4 linked regions of the Homo sapiens genome follow. The protein of the gene in region 1 purifies or fractionates together with the protein of each later gene. This does not show direct contact. Each region holds a gene or a part of one and is shown in the gene's direction. Other genes may lie near its edges.

Evidence for each region. The genes of interacting proteins can lie anywhere in the genome.
Region 2: the proteins of IL31 (region 1) and MAN1A1 purify together in Homo sapiens (affinity purification with mass spectrometry; one large-scale study listed by BioGRID and IntAct). This does not show direct contact.
Region 3: the proteins of IL31 (region 1) and ROBO1 purify together in Homo sapiens (affinity purification with mass spectrometry; one large-scale study listed by BioGRID and IntAct). This does not show direct contact.
Region 4: the proteins of IL31 (region 1) and DNAJC1 purify together in Homo sapiens (affinity purification with mass spectrometry; one large-scale study listed by BioGRID and IntAct). This does not show direct contact.

Annotation. Positions count from the first base shown.
Region 1 is NC_000012.12:122,171,529-122,175,597, reverse strand, and holds IL31 (interleukin-31 precursor), read left to right. Parts: upstream 1-1,376; 5' UTR 1,377-1,425; coding exon 1,426-1,441; intron 1,442-1,605; coding exon 1,606-1,754; intron 1,755-2,856; coding exon 2,857-3,186; 3' UTR 3,187-3,569; downstream 3,570-4,069. UniProt on the Homo sapiens protein: Activates STAT3 and possibly STAT1 and STAT5 through the IL31 heterodimeric receptor composed of IL31RA and OSMR. May function in skin immunity. Enhances myeloid progenitor cell survival in vitro.
Region 2 is NC_000006.12:119,343,262-119,346,761, reverse strand, and holds part of MAN1A1 (mannosyl-oligosaccharide 1,2-alpha-mannosidase IA), read left to right. Parts: intron 1-3,500. UniProt on the Homo sapiens protein: Involved in the maturation of Asn-linked oligosaccharides. Progressively trim alpha-1,2-linked mannose residues from Man(9)GlcNAc(2) to produce Man(5)GlcNAc(2).
Region 3 is NC_000003.12:78,599,869-78,602,998, reverse strand, and holds part of ROBO1 (roundabout homolog 1 isoform a precursor), read left to right. Parts: intron 1-2,689; coding exon 2,690-2,886; intron 2,887-3,130. UniProt on the Homo sapiens protein: Receptor for SLIT1 and SLIT2 that mediates cellular responses to molecular guidance cues in cellular migration, including axonal navigation at the ventral midline of the neural tube and projection of axons to different regions during neuronal development.
Region 4 is NC_000010.11:21,885,231-21,888,730, reverse strand, and holds part of DNAJC1 (dnaJ homolog subfamily C member 1 precursor), read left to right. Parts: intron 1-3,500. UniProt on the Homo sapiens protein: May modulate protein synthesis.

The DNA of each region.
Region 1 (4,069 bases):
CAGGGGATCGGGGCTGCCGTGAGTTGTGATGATGCCACTGCACTCTGGCCTGGGTGACAGAATGAGACCCTGTCTCAAAAAAAAAAAAAAAGAAAGAAAAAGAAAGCTAATGAACTTAGAAATAGTTTCTAAGGCCAGAGTGGTGGCTCGCACCTGTAATCCCAGCACTTTGAGAGGCGGAGGCAGGTGGATCACAAGGTCAGGCGTTTGAGACCAGCCTGGCCAACATAGTGAACCCCGTCTCTACTAAAAATACAAAAATTAGCTGTGCGTGGTGGTGGGCGCCTGTAATCCCAGCCACTCAGGAGGCTGAGGCAAGAGAATTGCTTGAACCTGGGAAGTGGAGGTTGCAGTGAGCCGAGATTGCGCTACTGCACTCCAGCCCAGGCGACAGAGCAAGACTCTGTCTCAAAAAAAAAGAAAGAAAGAAAGAAAGAAAGAAAAGCAATAAAGTTTCTAGGCTGGCGCAGTGGCTCATGCCTGTAATTCCAGCACTTTGGGAAGCCGAGGCAGGCAGATCACCTGAGGTCAGGAGTTAGAGACCAGCTTGACCAACATGGCGAAACCCCATTTCTACTAAAAATACAAAAATTAGCTGGGCATGGTGGCACGTGCCTGTAGTCCCAGCTACTTGGGAGGCTGAGACTGAGGCATGAGAATTGCTTGAGCCCAGGAGACAGAGGTTGCAGTGATCACGCCACCGCACTCCAGCCTGGGTGACAGAGCAAGACTCCATCTCAAAAAAAAAAAAAAGAAAAAAGATATGAACAAGGATTTCAAGCAATAACTCTGGATCACAGTCTCTGGTTCTGGGCCCTGAGATTGCAGAGGCACGATGGAGAGTCCAGTGATGTCCAAGGCCACATGGAGTTGAGATGAAGCCTTCGACCCGCCACATTCACAGCAGTTATGGGGCCGTCCCTGCACACCGGCGTGGGCATATGCTGCAGAAATTTCCAGAGATACCGCATTCTGCACATCTCATGCCGGCTTCGCATTTCCTCCCCAGAAATTCCCTGTGGCCGCTGGCCTTGAACTCCTGGAAGTCACCCGCTCCTTGGTGGTATGGTCGTGTCTGTCAACCCTGGGCTTCAAAATTTTGTCTAGTCAAATCAACAGGCTCCTTCCAAGAAGAATGGCAAAGATGCATTCATGTGCCTTCTTGTGAAGTATGTGTGTGTCTGAGTCAGGCATCTGCCCACCTGGAGGGTAACCTCAGCATTTCCATTCAGCCCTTTCACTCAGCCGTGGCCAGTAGAACTTTTGAGTGTTTTCTGGAGAAAAGCTGAGTAAATGGTTTTGCCATGGGCGGGACGCTGACTGCTCTTTCTCCTCACCCTGGCCCTTTATATACCTCCAGGCAGCCATGGCGAACACATCTGGCTCCAGAAGCCCCCACTGAAGCTGGCCTTGCTCTCTCTCGCCATGGCCTCTCACTCAGGTATCACTGGTCCTGGTGCTTCCGGAGTCTTGGGCATCATCTTATCTCACCAGGAAGATTCTGGAAGCACTACCCCCAGGGTTGGCTCAGCAGGGCTGCAGGGATGGAGCCAGGGTGGGCAGGGGTGTGTGATGTATGCGCTCACGGCATCGTTCTCTCTCCAGGCCCCTCGACGTCTGTGCTCTTTCTGTTCTGCTGCCTGGGAGGCTGGCTGGCCTCCCACACGTTGCCCGTCCGTTTACTACGACCAAGTGATGATGTACAGAAAATAGTCGAGGAATTACAGTCCCTCTCGAAGATGCTTTTGAAAGATGTGAGTGTCCTAGAGATTTCTTTTCTAAACGATTTCTTAAAAATGCCTTCCATTGCCCTCCAAAGAGGCTCCTCTCTCCGGACCTGAAACCAGGGCTGTAGCTATGCCAGGAAGGGATGGGGGAAACTAGACAGGCAAAGATGGCTTTTTTTTTTTTTTTGAGACAGAGTCTTACTCTGTCACCCAGGCTGGAGTGCAGTGGTGCAATCTTGGCTCACTGCAACCTCTGCTTCCTGGGTTCAAGCGATTCTCCTGCCTCAGCCTCCCGAGTAGCTGGGACTACAGGCATGCGCCACCACGCCCAGCTAATTTTCATATTTTTAGTAGAGACAGAGTTTCTCCACGTTGGCCAGGCTGGTCTTGAACTCCTGACCTCAAGTGATCCGCCTGCCTTGGCCTCCCAAAGTGCTGGGATTACAGGCGTGAGCCACTGTGCCCAGCCAAGATAGCTTTGATCAAACAAACAAATGCCCAAACTTGGAAACAATTCATAAAATTGGCATTACTCTTCTCATCTGCCTTGGTATTTAGACCTTAGCCTTGGCTTTTATAAAAGGCAGAGGTTGTTACCAACCCAAGATGACTGGGCAGTTCAGGTTGATGAGGTGCTGCTGGCAATTTGGTCTGACTCTAGTTAGTACTTAGAAAGAGGAAGGGAGGGAGTGGTCCGGACTCCTTGGTTTGTTGGGGAAAACTCTCGCCTGCATCTCGGAGGCCTTTCCGGACAAGCCTAACACTCTCCTTTATAAGTGGAGCGTGCGTGGCTTTAACACAGAGTCCCAAAGGGCGGGGAGCTGCCATGGAAGGCCAGATGTGCTGCAATTCCCACCACCCTGAGCACGTGAGAGTGGGTTCTGGAAGGCTGGGAGGCCTCAGCTGGATGGATCAGTGGTTCTGAGCACAGGCTTCAGGACTGCAGCCACCTAAGCTCTAGTTTCATCTGGAAATGGGGTTGGTGATGGCACAGCCTCATAGGGTTGTGACATTGATCAGATAAATATATCAACGAGGCGGGTTACGGAGGAAGCATGCAAACATTCACTGTTAAGACTTGCAGCTGTCATTGCAAACCCAACACTGACCATTTCTCCTCATTCCACAGGTGGAGGAAGAGAAGGGCGTGCTCGTGTCCCAGAATTACACGCTGCCGTGTCTCAGCCCTGACGCCCAGCCGCCAAACAACATCCACAGCCCAGCCATCCGGGCATATCTCAAGACAATCAGACAGCTAGACAACAAATCTGTTATTGATGAGATCATAGAGCACCTCGACAAACTCATATTTCAAGATGCACCAGAAACAAACATTTCTGTGCCAACAGACACCCATGAATGTAAACGCTTCATCCTGACTATTTCTCAACAGTTTTCAGAGTGCATGGACCTCGCACTAAAATCATTGACCTCTGGAGCCCAACAGGCCACCACTTAAGGCCATCTCTTCCTTTCGGATTGGCAGGAACTTAAGGAGCCTTAAAAAGATGACCGACAGCTAAGTGTGGGAACTCTGCCGTGATTCCTTAAGTACATTTTTCCAATGAATAATCTCAGGGACCCCTCATATGGGCTAGTCCCGGGAGGGCTGAGATGTGAATTTGTGAATTACCTTGAAAAACATTAGGTTATTGTTATTAGTCTTGGTATTTATGGAATGCTTTTCTTCTGCAGGCTTAAGTCTTACTTATTATACCCTCGTGAGGGTGGGAGGTGGCAGCTATGTTAATTTATTGATATTTATTGTACTAAGAGTTGTCAATGCTCCCTGGGGGAGCCCTCGGAATCTATTTAATAAATTATATTGAATTTTTCTCATAATCTGTGACACATTTTGTGAGGGGCTTGACATTGGCAAATGGGACTCCAAGCTGGGTAGAGTTGTGGCAGAGGGCAGATGGACATGCTCTAGAAAGAGGTATCGCTTCTACCACTGTCATTTCTTCCCACTGGACGGGCTCAATAAAAAATAATGACCCTGAGCCAGGCACTGTGGCTCACACCTGCAATCCCAGCACTTTGGGAGATAAAGGCAGGAGGATCACTTGAGCCCAGGAGTTCCAGACCAGCCTGGGCAACATAGTGAGACCCCATCTCTATTTAAAAAAAAGAAAGAGAAAAGAAATAATGACCCTGGTGGTACACGGTGGCTAGTTTCGTCTGGAAATGGCGATGGTGATGGCCACAGCCTCATAGGGTTGTAACACAGATCAGATATCCCAGCACTTTGGGAAGCTAAGGCTGGAGGACTGCTTGGGGCCAGAGTTTCGGACCAGCCTGGGCAACATAGCAAGATCCCATCTCTAAAAAAACCAACCCAA
Region 2 (3,500 bases), on another chromosome or scaffold:
CCGAGGAAAAGATTTTAATACGAAAGATACATAGATGTTAAGCTGTTGGTACTGACCAAGAGTGATTACAAGTGCATTCAGAGCAGAACCAGTGGGGCAGTAGCAGTCTCAGACTCAGGACAACATATTAACAGTGTGCATATCCATCCAGTAGATCCATGTTGTCTGTATGCCTAAATCACAAGGTCTTAATTAACCGTGTAAACGAGATTTACGTAGTCTCTGTCTAACATCTTAGCACCTAGATGTTTTGAAACCGCTCAGTCTTGCATAAAGCAGTGGAACTAAATGTGTTCTTTAAAATTCCTTGTTGCTGTGAGAACCCAAAAGAGCCAGCATAATTAGCTTTAGTGTTTAGTCAAAGGCTAATGGGAAGAAATGGATTATGATTTTCCATCAGATTAGTTCAGGCAGATATATTCCTTTGTAAACCAAAAGAAAAAAAAAAGAAATTATGATGCTGTTCTAAAAACTGTGCTGTAAATATTTGGCTTTAGAGAGGCAAGAGTGGTTGCCCATTGTAAATAGGGCACTGGACTTTAACTTTACGTATTTGGATTCAGTTTCAGGCACCACTGTGGACATTTTGTTATCAACCAGTAGATCTTTGCCTTAGTTTTTTTCTTTACCATTGTGTTTTCTTTTCTTTCTTTTTGGAGACAGAGTCTGGCTCTGTTGCCCAGGCTGGAGTGCAGTGGGGTGATCTCAGCTCACTCCAACCTCTGCCTCCTGGGTTCAAGCAATTCTCCTGCCTCAGCCTCCCAAGTAGCTGGGATTACAGGCACGTGCCACCACACCCAGCTAATTTTTGTATTTTTAGTAGAGACGGGGTTTCACCATGTTGGCCAGGCTGGTCACGAACTTGACCTCAAGTGATCGACCTGCCTGGCCTCTCAAAGTGCTGGGATTACAGGTATGAGCCACCATGCCTGACCTGTTCCTGTATTTTCTAATTCTCTTTATACTTAGGTTCTCTATCACACCTGAATGCACCAACACTTATAGTTAAAATTTAGAAAGTGCACTCAAGTCTAACATGTTGGAAGACTGGATTGTAATTTGAGTCAACCTGTTATTTTGTACTTGGTTCAAAGTCAGTCAATACTATTTTTTATATCTATGGCACATTTATGTTACTAGTACTGCAGTAGATTTTTAACAACTTCGTGTCTTAGGGGAGATACTCTGTTAATTTCAAATAGGTCATTGTACAGAATGCTTCACAAAAAATGTTAAATGCTTTCCACTACTGATTTGATGGATGATGAATCTTTGATGTAAAACTTCAAAATAGAATTAAGATCTTCCTCCCTTCACCTCTGTTAAAATTTTGTAAATTAACCCTGGGATTTCTCTGAGATTTATGATACATACATAGTGTATATTTATTTTCATGAGTTTGATCTTAAAATTGTACTCAGGTTGTCCTTAGCTTTAAAAAGCAGTGTTAGAATAATGAAGCACAAAAGTTAAAATAGCAGCATGGAAGTTTTAGAAAAATAGTCCATTTACTTTTTTTTTTAATCAGAAATCATTTTTAGCTTCCCTTCTCCCCCGCTCCGCCCCCCCCTCAACCTCTCCCATTTTCTCAATTAGCCTGTGCTGTCCTTTAGGATTAGAACCTTAATCCAATTTGGAGGATGACTTTTTTTTTCGTTTTTCTGAAATTAAGGGGAGACCTGAGTAATAGGGGCTGGGGCTAAAGACAGTCAGGTTGTCAGAGGGGACTCCTTTCTTCTCAGGCTGGAATCCTCACCAACCTAAGTGGGGGTTAGGGGTATGTGCAGACTGGCAGCCTTAGATTTGTCATGTAAGGCTTTAGGACCCTGCACCTGTGGGGTCACAGTTTTCTTCTCTCAGTTCTAAAACAAGACTTTAGTATTTTATTCCAGACCTATTTGTGTAATCATGAATTTAAAGAACATTTTCATATTGATGGCTAGTAGTTAAAATTCACATTTATTATACTTTATGCTAGCCTTAGGCATATAGCCTATAATTTATATTAACTATTGACAGTTTATACCCTTTTGGTAAAGATCAGATGTGAGAATAATCTGCCTTGGCAGGTTAAAACAAAACACTTTTATTTTGACACTTAACTTTCCAGTTTATTTTTATGGGTAGTTCTGGGGTGGAAAATAATATTTACAAAATAATAAAAGCCATGATTTGGAGACCTGACCCAAGAAGCTTCAACATCCTTAGGTTGCTTGCCTGTGCCACTGTGCCGTGACACATTCCCTACTGAACATAGGCTAGTGTGGGATTGCTCCACCCAGAGGCCCTTCCCCAGAGCAGGGAGGACATGGAGTGTTTGTGAAGGTTTTTCTCTCCTTAACAAGTAGGTTAGTTTTCAACAGTTTAAGTACTGGAGTAGGTGCTGACTGTTAATATACAAAAGCAAAAAAATACATATATACAGTAATGGGTAGTTAATTATGTTCAGCTTCATTTTCTGTAAGCTGTTGATAGTTTCTCCTAGAATATTCTGTCTTCCTCTTATCAAGGCAACTGGGATTCATATAAAGGAGCTTCTTATGTATATGGGACTTAGAAACTAGTTAAAAGTGTGAAAAGAGGTTTTAAAAAATATTTTCAAACAAATGCATCTATCTGTACTTCTTAGGTGAGCTAATGAACTAAACCATCTTGAAAAATTTATCTTAGTATTACACAAAATGCATTTGTATGAGATCTGAATTGGTTGGAATTCATTGAAGAACTTACATATTTGAATCAGATTATTTCATAAGCTGTGGTGGTACAAATTTTTCATTGAAGAGAATTTTAAGCATGTGTCCGAAGGTCAGAGGGGAGGAATGCCTGCAGATCCGTGTGAGGGATGAGGGCTGAATACACAGGGTAGATCAGAATTGCACTGGAACCTGGTTATACCTCCTAACCCAGTCAAGCACCTGTGGTCTTTTAAATTTCTTTCTTTATAATCTTGTGTATGTTGGTCAAAGAAGGGTTTGATTAGTCAAAATAGGAACAGCCACTGTGGGCTCCAGAGATACTGTGAAACGAGTGGCAAAACAACCTCCCCGCCAAGTAGACGAAAATAATAAACAAGATACCTGTTTGGTAGTTTAGGGAAGAGATTCCCTCTTTGAGGAAATAAGTCTTGACTTTTCCCTCAGTATTCTTAGCCTAGTTCCTTGCTTGGTGTTCAGTGATTGAACTATATCTTATCCCCACCCCCAACCTCTCAATCTGTTAAAAGGCCCTTTACACAAACTCTGCAAATTATGCCATGATAACTTTAAATCTCAGATTTTAAAACTAAGTGTATGCTCCGAGTCGTAAGGTATTGCATCTGAATGAGATCTGAGAGGTAGCTCATTCATTTTACAGTAGAGGCAACCAAGACACAAAGATCATTCTGGAAATCACATCACCAGCTAGTGGCAGAGTTGAGTTGCAGAGGGAAGCCCCAGTCTTCTGTGAGTGTTGCGCATTGTCTCCCACATGGTTTGTCTCCTAAATAAAACCCCAAA
Region 3 (3,130 bases), on another chromosome or scaffold:
ACTTACTTGTTGTATGTTGGACCATGTGGAAAGGATACACTTAAGATGTATGGAAAGGTTGTTGAAAGGGAAGAATCTATAATAATTTCAATATTCTGTCTTGCGTATCTTAATGATTAGTGATGTCATTCACTGTCTTAGAGAATGTAGCAAAGGAAGATATCTAAGGGAGTGAGCATTGTGAGGTCAATGTTCAACAGGTTGAGTTTGAGGAACATGTAAGAGTAGGGGTTCAGCTGGGGTGCCTATAGGAGCCTAAGGTTTGGGGCATAGTTTAGGAATTAAAAATATAAATTAATGATTCAGCATGATGAAAATAATGTAAAACAATGTATTAATGACGTGTTACAGGTCAAGATGAAAGTATATCAGCACGCAAAGCATACAAAATACCTCCCCTTATGACAGTTATATTTTAGAAAGGGTTATAATCTGTGAGACTGGGTAAAATCACCTAGGGTCAGTAGAAGAAATAATATATATGTAGTATTAAGCCATTCTTGCATTTCTATAAAGAAAAACCTGAGACTGGGTAATTTATAAAAGAAAGAGATTTAATTGGCTAAGTGTTCTGCAGCCTTTATAGGAAACATGGTGTTGACATCCGCTTGGCTTCTGAGGAGACCTCAGGAAGCTTAGAATCATGGCGGAAGGTGAAGGCAGAGTAGGCACATCACATGGTGAAAGCAGGAGCAAGAGAGAGAGAGAGTGGGATGGAGGTGCCACATACTTTTAAACCACCAGATCTTGTGTGAACTCAGAGCAAGAGCTCACCTATCATCAAGGGGATGGCCCAAGCGATCCATGAGGTATCTGCCTCCATGATCCAGACATCTCCCACCTGGCCCCACCTCCAACAGTGGGGATTACAATTCAACATGCGATTTGGGCAGTGACAAATATCCAAACTATATCATTCATCTATATATATACACACACACACACACACACACTCACACACATGAATGATATACATACATATATGTATAACGTATATATAATTATATTATACATATATATGAATTATATACATTAGGCTGAAAGTAGAAACCTGTAGAGCATCAGCATATCTGTGGTGCTTCATAAAAAGAGCTCACAGAAGATTGACCAGGGAGGAAGGAAAGCTAGCAGCTGAGAGAATAATATTTGCATTGATTAAGAGCAGTAAGAAGTCCAGGGACACAAGGCTGGAAACACGGTTAGCATTATCAATTTTCTCAGTTTCATAGTAGTGATGTAGGCATAAATAGATTTCAGTGGGATGCAGAATGAATGGGAATTGTGACTATCAATATTGAATCCAAATTGCTTTTCAAGAAGCTTGGCTGAGTGGTGAGGAAAGAAAGAAGGTGTTGATTTCATGGAGAGCACAGTCTTAAGGGGAAAGTTTTTAGTAAGAGAGAGATTTTATCATATTGTAGTTTGAGAAAACTAAAGTCAGTAGAGAGAAAGCTGTTGATGAAACAGAGACAGAGGATGATGGTCACATGGTATCAAGTGTTATGAAGAGAAGCTGCAGAAACAGTCATCCTCATGGACTGTGAAACTCCTATGTGTCAGAACTGTGGGTTAGGGGTGAAAGTTGTGATGAGTAGAATGGAAAGAACAAGACGCTATCAAGGAAGACTATACTGGCTTCAGAAAACGATGGCTTGGGCCTCAGAGGTGGAGATGTTTTTGTGCAAGGATAGAGGAGCAATAATTTAGAACTGGTGATGGTGAGCTAGAGGGAAGCCTTCTGCCTTACCCTTCCACTACAGAGAACGTCAGCGGGAACTTCAAGGGAAATCAGGCTTCACTCAGGCAATGTGAATAGTAGAGGAAGCATTTGGGGGAGGTGGGGAAAAGCATGCCAAAGAGTTAGGTATTTATGTGTTTGTCATCTAAAAGGCAGAGTTGGCAGACTTTGGAGAGAAGTGAGCAGCTGGCTGATGCATCAGTAGAAGTAGCACCAAATTTTCAAGCAGTTAAGGAGGTAGAAATTCAGGAGACAGAAATTAATTGGAGTGGCTTGCTTATTGAAGTTAGCAACAATAGCAGGCTTCTAAGATTCAGAGTTCCACAATGTAAATAGGACATTGACGTGGAGGTTGATATTTTGGTGTCTGTGGAGTGAAACCAGGCTTGGTTCTGTTTGATATTTCTAGGAGACTGGGCTTGATTTTTACCAATTCCTTATAATAACATTTTATAAGTTATGTAGATATTTTATTATCTCATCTGTTTTCATATCAACACTAAGAAACTGTCTCACGTGTCCATGTGAACGGAGGCCTGACAGAAACCCTCTAGGTATAGATGTTATCATCACTTTTTTTGGAAAAGTAGAAACTAAAGCCTAAAATAATCTGAGATCATATAGTGAATGACAGAATTGGAAGCCAAGTCTGACTCCAGGTTTGGTTTACCTCTTTTAATGATATTGGTCTGTAGTGAGTTTGAGATGGACAAGAGCTTATGAGTGGAATCAATCCAAATCCCTGACTACTAACAGGAAAACAACAAGGCTTATACTTTTCATTTTCAACACACTATGCTACATTATTCATTATGCTTATAGAGTGTCCTCATTTATACCTTAAATCACTGATGCTTCCTTATTCAGAATTACAGATAGACAGGAGTGATACAATATACAGTGAAAGTGTATGATGGTACTCACCTGCATTTATTATATTTCATTACACAGAGGATATTCTACCTTATTGTAGACCTACTTTTCCAACATCAAATAATCCCAGAGATCCCAGTTCCTCAAGCTCAATGTCATCAAGAGGATCAGGAAGCAGACAAAGAGAACAAGCAAATGTAGGTCGAAGAAATATTGCAGAAATGCAGGTACTTGGAGGATATGAAAGAGGAGAAGATAATAATGAAGAATTAGAGGTATCTATAATTTTTCCCCAAGTTTACCAATGTTAGACTGTGGTTGTTTTATGTAGTTAGGAACCTTCATCAGTGTACAGAAATGTTACTGTTTTATTGCAAACTTTTCAGTACTCTAATGTCTATGATGGCAGAAACTGAAGTTCTGAGAATTTGAGAATTTTCTTGAAATGTGTCCCAAAGTTTTAAATGTTAATGGCAGTTTATTTGTTTAGCTAGGGTTTATCTTCATTTGCAGATTTTC
Region 4 (3,500 bases), on another chromosome or scaffold:
TTCTCATAATTTAGCTCTCACTTGTAAGTGAAAACATATGGTATTTGGTTTTCTATTCTTGGTTTAGTTTGCTAAGGATAACAGCCTCCAGCTCCATCCATGTTCCTGCAAAAGACATGATCTCATTCTTTTTATGGCTGCATAGTATTCCATGGTGTATATGTACCACATTTTATGGCTGCATAGTATCCCATGATGTATATGTACCATATTTTCTTTATCAAATTGCTAATTGATGGGCATTCAGGTTGATTCCATGTCTTTGCTATTGTGAATAGTGCTGCATTGAACATCTGTGTGCATGTGTCTTTACGGTAGAATGATTTACACTCCTCTGAGTATATACTCAGTAATGGTATTGCTAGGTTAAATAGTAGTTCTGCTTTTAGCTCTTTGAGGAATCACCATACTGTCTTCCATAATGGTTGAACTAATTTTCACTCCCACCAACAGTGTATAGGTGTTCCCTTTTCTCCATAACCTTGGCATCATCTGTTATTTTTTGACCTTTTAGTAATAGTCATTCTGACTGGATAGAGATGGTATCTCATTGTGGTTTTGATTTGCATTACTCTAATAATCAGTGATATGGAGCTTTTTTTCATGTGCTTATTGGCTGCATGGATGTCTTCTTTTGAAAAGTGTCTGTTTATGTCATTTGCCCACTTTTTAATGGGGTTGTTTGTTTTTCTCTTGTATATTTATTGAAGTTCCTTATGGATCCTGGATATTAGACCTTTGTCACATGCAGAGTTTTCAAAAATTTTCTCCCATTCTGTAGGTTGTCTTTTTACTCTGTCGATAGTTTCTTTATGCTGTGCAGAAGCTCTTAAGTTTAAATCTCAGTTGTCAATTTTTGCTTTTGTTTCAATTGCTTTTGGTGTCTTTGTAATGAAATCTTGGCCCATTCCTACATCCAGGTTGCTATTGCCTGTGTTGTCCTCCAGGTTTTTTATAGTTTTGGGTTTTATGTTTAAATATTTACTCCATCTTTAGTTGATTTTTGTGTATGGTGTAAAGAAGGGGTCCAGTTTCAATCTTCTGCATATGGCTAGCCAGTTATTCCAGCACCACTTATTGAATAGGGAGTCCTTTCCTTATTGCTTGTTTTTATCAGCTTTGTCAAAAGTCAGATGGTTATAGGTGTGCAGCCTTATTTCTGGGCTCTCTGTTCTGTTCCATTGGTCTATGTGCCTGTTTTTGTACCAGTACCATGCTGTTTTGGTTATGTAGCCCTGTAGTATTGTTTGAAGTAAGGTAGTGTGATGCCTCCAGTTTTGTTTTTTTTGCTTAGGATTGTCTTGGCTATTCAGGCTCTTTTTCATTTCATATGAATTTTAAAATAGTTTTGTCTAGTTCTGTGAAGAATGTCGTTGTTAATTTGATAGGAATAGCATTGAATCTGTAAATTACTTTGAGCAATATGACCATTTAAATGATACTGATTCTTCCTATCCATGAGCATGGGATGTTTTTCCACTTGTTTGTGTCTTCTCTGATTTCTTTATTTGAGTTTTGTAATTCTCGTCATAGAACTCTTTCACCTCCCTGGTTGGCTGTATTCCTAGGTATTTTATTCTTTTTGCGGCAGTTGTGAATAGGATTGCCTTTCTGATTTGACTCTAGGTTTGGCTGTTGTTGGAGTATAGGAATGCTAGTGATTTTTGTACATTGATTTGTATCCTGAAACTTTGCTGAAGATGTTTACCAGCTAAAGGAGCTTTGGGCCGAAACTATGGGGTTTTCTAGATATAGAATCATGTCAATTGCAAACAGGGACAGTTTGGCTTCCTCTCTTTTTATTTGAATGTGCTTTATTTCTTTCTCTTGCCTAATTGCTTCAGCTAGGACTTCCAATACTGTGTTGAATAGAAGTGGTGAGAAAGGGCATCCTTGTCTTGTGCCAATTTTCAAAGGGAATACCTAGTTTATTGAGAGTTTTTTTTAACATAAAGGGGTGTTGAATTTTATTGAAAGCTTTTTCTGTATCTATTCAGGTAATCATGCAGTTTTTGTCTTTAGTTCTGTTTATGTGAAGAATCACATTTATTAATTTGCTTATGTTGTACCAACCTTGCTACCTGGGGTTGAAGAATACTTGATTGAGGTGGATTAGCTTTTTGATGTGCTGCTGGATTCAGTTTGCAAATATTTTGTAATTTTTGCATCACTGTTAATCAAGGATGTTGAACTGAAGTTTTTTTGTTGTTGTGGCTCTGCCAGGTTTTAGTATCAGGATGATGCTGGCCTCATAGAATGAGTTTGGGAGGAGTCCTTCCTCCTCAGTTTTTTGGAATTGTTTCTGTAGGAATGATACCAGCTGTTTGTACATCTGGTAGAATTCAGCTGTGAATCCATCAGGTCCTGGCCTTTTTTTAGTTGGGAGCCTAATTTATTACTGATTCAATTTTGGAGCTCATTATTGGTCTATTCAAGGAATCAATTTCTTTCTGGTTCAGTCTTAGGAGGGTGTATGTGTCCAGGAATTTATCCATCTCTTCTAGGTTTTCTAGTTTGTGTGCATAGAGGTTTCTGTAGTAGTTTCTGTTGGTTATTTTTACTTCTGTGGGGTCAGTGGTAATGATGACACCCTTCATCATTTCTAATTGTGGTTTTTGGGGTTTTCTCTCTATTAGCCTAGCTAGTAGCTTACCTATCTTGTTAAATTTTTTTTTAAAATCCATTCTTGGATTTGTTTATCTTTTGAATGGATTTTCTTGTCTCTGTCTCCTTCATTTCAGCTCTGATTTTGGTTATGTTTTGTCTCCTGCTATCTTTGCAGTTGATTTGTTCTTGCTTCTCTAATTCTTTCCGTTGTGATGTTAGGTTGTTAATTTGAGATCTTTCTGACTTTTTGATGTGGGCATTTAGCGCTATGAATTTCCCTCTTAACACTGCCTTAGCTGTGTCCCAGATATTCTGGTATGTTGTATCTTTGTTTTCATTAGTTTCAAAGAACTTCTTGATTTCTGCCTTTATTTCATGATTTATCTAAAAGTCATTCAGGAGTATGTCATTTAATTTCCGTGTAATTGCATTCTTTTGAGCAAGTTTCTTAGTCTTCTGTTTTTATTGCACTGTGGTTTGAGAGTGTGTTTAATACGGTTTTGGTTCTTTTGCATTTGCTGAGGATAGTTTAATGTTCAATTATGTGATCAATTTTAGAGTATGTGCCATGTGGCAAGGAGAAGAATGTATATTCTGTTGTTTGGGGGTAGAAAGTTCTGTAGAGATCTATCAGATCCATTTGGTTCACTGTTTAGTTTGGGTCCTGAATATCTTTGTTAATTTTCTGCCTCAGTGATCTGTCTAATACTGTCAATGGAGTGTTGAAGTCTTCAACTATTAATGTGGGTGAGTCTGTGTCTCTTTTTAGGTCTCTAAGAACTCGCTTTATGAATCTGGGTCCTCCTGTGTTGGGTGCATATATATTTAGGATAGTTAAGTCTTGTTGAATTGAACCCTTTGCCATTATGTATTGCCCTTTTTTTGTGTTTTTT